Linked DNA regions of Homo sapiens. The protein of the gene in region 1 interacts with the protein of each later gene in a pairwise test. Each region holds a gene or a part of one and is shown in the gene's direction. Other genes may lie near its edges.

Region 1 (3,500 bases):
AGCTTATCTGCTTCTTTGTTGTTGTGAAAAAATACCATGAGAAGGGTTTTATATTACATTGAAGAGTTTAGGAAGAATGAATGATAGGTATACAGAAAACAAATTAAAGAGGTGGTTATTAACTTTATAAAAGACAAAACTTGAACAGGAAAAGAAGTATCCTATTTGAGCTATCAATCAGGATAGGCCATGAAAACAACATCATGCTCTCCTGCTGCCTCCCTGTCCCCAAATATCTGCTCATTGTAGTTACTTGGGAATGCAGGCAGATGGAAGCTCCATTTTAATGTGAGCACACACTGTCACAGCAGGGGTAGAAGAATAGGAAATTGTGCACTGGCACCTACATTTCCATTTGGAAGTGACACAAGTACTCATGTTTATTGGCCAAAGCAAGTCATACCTGACCGTTGTGGAGTGAGGACGGCAATAGGGAAATACATTCCTGCCTCCCAGGAGAACTGGGATATTTGTGAACTGCTATAGTCATTACCACACTTGGCTTAGCAGCAAAGAGTCTTGTTGTAAACAAAATACTGGCAGATTTTGCTTTAGCTATATCATAAAGATGGGGAGGGGGGGAATAGATAGTGGAAATGGGGAAATTAACATCTGTCACAATAGACAGTGTATAAAATTGATAACTGATGGAGTAGCAGTATAAACATGTTAAAAACATGAGGGTAAATATCAGAGAAAACAGCTAAGAGAGTTAAAATTATTTTGCTTCCATGGAGTAGGACTAGTGGTGAGAAGCGTTGAACAGGAAACTGCAGTATTTCATTATAAGCTTTTGAAGATTATTTACCATGACAAAAAATAAAAGAAAAAGTGCGATAATACCCATAAATACAGTGTGATTGGGAGAATTAAATGGTGTTTTAGGTAGATAGATATAGACGTATATAGTAGCTAATAGAGAACTTGAACCATTGTGAGCTGTTATTTCTCTTCCATTTCCTGTTATGTTGCAGTGAGCCTCTTTCCACATTTCAGAGTGCCAAATTTGGGGCTTAGTATAGCATTGCCTTTTATGTGTGGGATGGTGGGATAGATGTTTTCTATAGAAGATACAGAAAGCTCCCCTATAGGAATATTTAATCTTCAGAGTTCAGGTGGCAGTCAAAACCTTAGGCTTGAGTAACTTCTCTGGGAATTATGAGAAATGAATGCCACTTAATTTTGGACTCCAATGGCAGGTAAGTACAAGTTGAAATTAAACTTGTGTTTGGTACATTTTCTTCTTAGGACAGACCAGAGATTTGTTTTATGAAAGGTGCTTACGAACAAGTAATTAAGTACTGTACTACATACCAGAGCAAAGGGCAGACCTTGACACTTACTCAGCAGCAGAGAGATGTGTACCAACAAGAGAAGGCACGCATGGGCTCAGCGGGACTCAGAGGTAAGGCTATTTCAGCATAGTCCCCTGGGGTGGAAAGGTAGAGCCTTCTTTTAATTGCAGATGAATTCATGCTTCACATTTGAGCTGTCCAACTCACTTCCAGGATTTGTAGAACCCTTGCCAGTATTGAGGTGTTAAGTTTTAGTTGGTTAATTGGCCCTCAAAAGATGGAAATTTGAGAATGTAGCAAAATATGAATCACTGGTTCTTTTAGATCTCCAGAGGTCTCTGAGTAGCTGATAGAAATTTTATTTTAAACAAGTTTATCTTATGAGAAGGGAAATGGATCGAGGTAAAATGGTGTTACTCTCTTTTTATCACTTTGTTTTAAAGACAAAAATACTTTTCTAAAAATTGAGTCTGAAGCCTCTAATATATCCTTTAAGGTGATTGCTAACTTGATCTGTTACTGTTCACCAGGGAGGTAAAGAAGTCCCCAGATTCTGCTTACTTATATGCTGCTGACTGAGCAGTGATGGGGAGAGGGTCTGCTGGACACACACACATTAGGCCACCTCTCCTAGGGATGTCATGTGTAAGACTCGGGGGTTGGTGGTTGGTGTCCTAACCTGATTCTTACCTTCTGGATAGTCATCTGGCTTCTGCAGAATATATGTAGTTATGTAGTCTCTCACAGCAGTTGGAAGAGTTGGCTTCCTTAATTTTATTATTTTAATGAAATAGGAGTCTAAGCACTACAATTTCTGGGAGGAAGAAAAACAAGTTATGTGAAAAATGTTTTTATTTGTTGTTCACTTAAGCAAAGGCTTTTTTTGAGTTTTAAACATTTTGATGGATTTATAGGGCTTCTGTTCTTAAAATAAACTAAGTTTGGAAAGGTACTCTTACCAGCAGAGAACATTGCTCCCAGCCTGCTGCCATTGCCCTTCTCTCTGAACCTTCTGTGCTGCTGAACCAAGATCACTCCTCATACCCCTGCCCCCAGAGCCTGGTGCATCTCATCTGGGATATGGGCTGTATTGTGACCATCTTAACACTTCATCCCCTGTCTCCAAGGAAATGGGAGGCAGAGACTCATGGCTGAGAAGTTATTTTGCAAATGGATATTTTGGATGGAAAAAAATTTAAAGGAAAACAACTTTTCCTTCCCCCTTTCCCCTTTTAATGTAAGAGGCTTTGATGACAGGTTCTAGAGTTTCTGGGGTTTCATCCCAAAGGCCTGAATCTGGAACATGCCCTGGATCCCCCCACCTCAGTCCTCAAGCTTTCTGGACCCCTGAAGCCAAGGCAGATTCTTTCTCCCAGCGTCATTTCTGGGGCAGGAGGAATCTCTTTTCTGGTTTACCTGGGCCAGACCTAAGAATAGCAGGATCTCTGAAACCACAGGGTTTTGATGTGTTTTTATCAAGCCAAATGTACAATTGCCAACTGACACTCTGGATAATTGAGCACAGGGGGTGCCCTCGTACATTGTACCGTCACTCCCTTCTGAACAGTTGGCAGACCAAACTGTTTGGAAGCTCAGATACTCTGGCTCAGGGTAACACTTTTGTTCCCCTTACACTCCTCAACTTTCCACCTCAGCTAGGGAAAGAGAATGACAGTTAAGGCTTGACCCAGGATTATAATCGTTAGAGCAAGTGGGAGTTTCAGAGACTTAAGGGGCACTGCAGGGAGGCCTTGCTGCCACAAAATTAGGGTTTGGATTGATAAAGCCTGTGTCGGAAGGGGCAGTGGCAGCTCCACTGAGACAATCCTGGGAAGACTGTGGTGCAGAGGGCCTGTTACTCCCCTGATTCACCTGATTCTGGGGCTTTGACCCTTTCTTTTTAAATTTACTTTTGCTAAGTTGCACTTATTTATTTTTTAAAAAGACCGTTGGTGAACAAAATGTGAACCCATTTCTTTCCTCTTTTGAACTTCTGGGATGTCATCACTTCCAGTTTGTTGGCTTTGTTTCCAGCTATTAATAAAGCATTAAAAGAGTGGAGAAAAAAAGGTAGGGAAGTGGGCAGAGTCTTGCTACTCTTAGCAGCACATAGCAAGAGGTTTTAAAGTGGCATGGATTTAGAGGACTTAAAGAGGTCTTGAAGGTCTAATATATGCTCCCTCTTTTTGTTAGTTTCTGGAACAA
Region 2 (3,500 bases), on another chromosome or scaffold:
ATTAAAAAAAAATTTTTTTTTTTTAGAGATGGGGTCTTGCGATGTTGCCCAGGCTGGTCTCAAGCTCCTGGCCTCAAGCGATCCTCCCACCTCAGCTTCCCAAAGTGCTGGGATTACAGGCAGTATCCTTCTAATGTCCTTGGTCGGGCCTCCTCCAGCCTGTGGCTCGAGGGTCTAGATCTCCTACTGGCCTGGGTGGCATGGAGGGTGTAGTCTAGGTGGCCTGAGGGGTGCCCAGGGATCCCCAGTTTGGGAAGTCCTTGTCTTCAGGGATTTCTGGCCAATGTGGTCCGTATATTTAGAGATGCTGGGAGGAGGGGGTGGGAAATTGCTGGAAACACCCTATTATACACCAAGTAAGATTTTCATGTAGGATTGGCAAGGCCTGAGTGCTGGGAAAGTGTCTGCAATGGCTACCTTTCAAAGCTGGGAGACCCCGCCACGGGGGCGGTTGTGGACTTGAGGGGCTGACCCCACAGCACGGAGGCTGCTGGGAATTCCTGCACCTTTGCCATGCTGCCACCTGAGGCAGGTTCCCAGCACCTGAGCTGCAGCCTCTGGAGTGGGGGAAATGGGGGGAAAGTAAGGGGCCGGGGTCATGGGGTCCACGTCCACCTTCCGCCCGCCTGGGCAGTTTTCTTGGATGTAAAAGGGAGATGGCTCTCCCCAACCTGCCTGGGTCCCAGTGTGGTGCTGTAGTCCAAGGGACTTGGTGTGACCCCGTGGGGATGCCACAGCATGGGTGTGTGGGACCCCCGGGGGCAGGTCTGTGGTGGAGACAGGGTGGGAGGGCCTGGCTTGAGGGCTTGCGGTCCTGGGCACTTGAGGATGCAGAAGAGGCTGCATGGTTGGGGAGGGTAGGTAAGCAGGGGGCAGCTTAGCCCTTTCCCCTCCTGTTCCCTGTGACAGAGGGGAGACCCTCCAGGCTGTTTGTGTCTTAGATGGTTGGCCGAGGGTAGGCCTCTTTGCTGGCTGGGGTCTAGCAGGGTCTCAAGGTGCATTTTCTGGCTACTGGCAGAACCACCATCAAAGCAAGTCCGTATCTTTTCGTCTATCCATCTGTTGTTACGCCAGCCAGTGAGGACCTTGCAGAGGCGTCAGGCCTGAGGGAGTCTCATTAGGTCCTGGTCCCCAGCCCCCGGCTGGCACATGAGAAGGGCCCACTTTATATTTTATTTTATTTATTTATTTAAGATGGAGTCTCACTCTGTCACCCAGGCTGGAGTGCAGTGGCGCGATCTCGGCTCGCTGCAACCTCTGCCTCCCGGGTTCAAGCAATTCTCTTGCCTCAGCCTCCTGAGTAGCTGGGATTATGGGTGCATGCCACCTCGCCCAGCCAATTTTTGTATTTTTAGTAGAGATGGGGTTTTGCCATCTTAGCCAGGCTGGTTTTGAACTCCTGATCTCAAGTGATCTGTCCACCTTGACTTCCCGGAGTGCTGGGATTACAGGCGTGAGCCACTGTGTCCGGCCCCACTTTATATTTTATTAAAAATATCGTTGAGGAGTGAAGGCTATGCTATACCAGGAACTTGCCTGGCTCACACCCTTATGTCGTCCAACCCCCGTCAAGACATAGAACAGCGCTTTGGGAGGCTGAGGCGGGAGGATGGCTTGAGGCCAGGAGTTTGAGACTAGCCTAGACAACATAGTGAAACCTCCATCTCTACAAGAAGTACAAAAATTAGCCAGGCGAGGTGGCTCATGCCTGTAGCCCCAGCTACTCAGGAGGCTGCGGCGGGAGGATCACTTGAGGCCAAGAATTTGAGACCAGCCTGGGCAACATAGCAAGACCCCGTCTCTTAAAAAAAAAATTAGCCGGGTGTGGTGATGTGTGCCTGTAGCCCCAGCTACTTGGGAGGCTAAGGCAGGAGGATTGCTTGACCCCAGGAGTTAGAACAATCCTGTAACCCCTAAAAGTTTTTGAAGCCCGTTTGTTCATCCTTGTCTCTTGTCCTGACCCCAGCAACCACTGATCTGTCTTCTGTATATGGTTTTCCATTTGTACAATGTCACATAAATGGAATCCTACAGTCCACAGCCTCTGAATCTGGCTTCACACAGCATAATGCATTTACGGCATTGCTGGGTACACGGGTAGCTGGTCCCTTCTGGTCCCTGAGTAGTGTTCCATGGTGTGGATATGCCACATACCTCTAGCCACTCTCCTCTCTAGGGAAATCTAGCAAACCGGCTTGGCCGGCCCTGCATCAGCTCGGGACCCCCCAGAAGAAGGTGGTTCCTCTTTCTCATTTTCACAAAGGCACCATCTGGCTGGCGGGGGGCCTGTGGCCTGCACCCCATCACTACCCACCCCCCACATCAAGAGCTGACCCCAAGCCGGGGGAGCTGCTCATCTCCGCCCTCAGAGCTGGAATTTCATCTTCTGTTTCTGGTGACTCATACTGTGAGCCCCGCGATGAAATTACACCTGCCTGCCGCTGCCCTCCGGGCCTCTGGCCCCATGCGATCCTCCCGCCGCCATCCAGGTGGGCTCTGGAGTAATTGAGGCTATGGGGCCAGGACAGCTGGAGGTTGAGGGCGGTGCCAGGGAGGGGAGCTGTCTGTGCCCTGGGGTGTCTTGCCCATCATCTTATGTATCCCCACCCTGTGGGAGTCTGGGGTTCCTGGTGGTGCGTCTCTGGTCTTCACTCCTGCAGCTGTTTTGCTTGGGGTAGAAGTTTCATGTTTGCCTGAAATAAGAGCAGGACTTCTGAGGGTAGGGAAGGAAGGTGGTGAAGCCACTGTTGCAGGCAGGAGCAGGAGTTAGGATCAAACGGAACAGGGCTGGCCGAGTGATGTCACATCTCTGGGCTTTGGTTTGTTCATCTGTTCTTATTATTATTTTGAGACAGGGTCTCGTTCTGTCACCCAGGCTGGAGTGCAGTGGTGCAATCATAGCTTGCTGCAGTCTTGAACTCCTAGGCTCAAGTGATTCTCCCACTTCAGCCTCCTAAGTAGCTGGGCTTGGAGGCACTTGCCACTACACCCAGCTAATTTTTTTATTTTGTAGAGATGGGGGTCTCGCCATGTCGCCCAGGCTGGTCTTGAACTCCTGTGTTCAAGTGATCCCACAACCTCAGCTTCCCAAGTGCTGGGATTAGAGGGGTGAGCCACTGCGTCCTGCCTGTTCATCTTTAAGTGGGAGAACAGAACACTAGGTTTGCAGGGCTGTGAGACTCAGCTGAGGGTAATGTGAGTGTGTGGATTACCACAGAGCCCTGGAGGGCCCCAGGGGCCACCAAGGAGCGGGTGGTGGGGACATGTGAGGCTCAAGCCTCCTGTGCCCCTTTGGGCCAGAGTAGGACCACTGTTGTTTTTTGTTTTTTTTTTTTTGAGACAGAGTCTCACTCTGTCGCCCAGGCTGGAGTGCAGTGGCGTGATCACGGCTCACTACAACCTCCGCCTCCCGGGTTCAGTTGATTCTCCTGCCTCAGCTTCTCGAGTAGCTGGGATCACAGGTGCGTGCCACCACACCCGACTAATTTTTGTATTTTTAG

The links. The genes of interacting proteins can lie anywhere in the genome.
Region 2: the proteins of ATP2C1 (region 1) and GTF2IRD1 interact in a two-hybrid assay, tested with the Homo sapiens proteins (one large-scale study listed by BioGRID).

What each region holds. Positions count from the first base shown.
Region 1 is NC_000003.12:130,974,084-130,977,583, forward strand, and holds part of ATP2C1 (calcium-transporting ATPase type 2C member 1), read left to right. Parts: intron 1-1,248; coding exon 1,249-1,405; intron 1,406-3,500. UniProt on the Homo sapiens protein: ATP-driven pump that supplies the Golgi apparatus with Ca(2+) and Mn(2+) ions, both essential cofactors for processing and trafficking of newly synthesized proteins in the secretory pathway.
Region 2 is NC_000007.14:74,460,406-74,463,905, forward strand, and holds part of GTF2IRD1 (general transcription factor II-I repeat domain-containing protein 1), read left to right. Parts: intron 1-3,500. UniProt on the Homo sapiens protein: May be a transcription regulator involved in cell-cycle progression and skeletal muscle differentiation. May repress GTF2I transcriptional functions, by preventing its nuclear residency, or by inhibiting its transcriptional activation.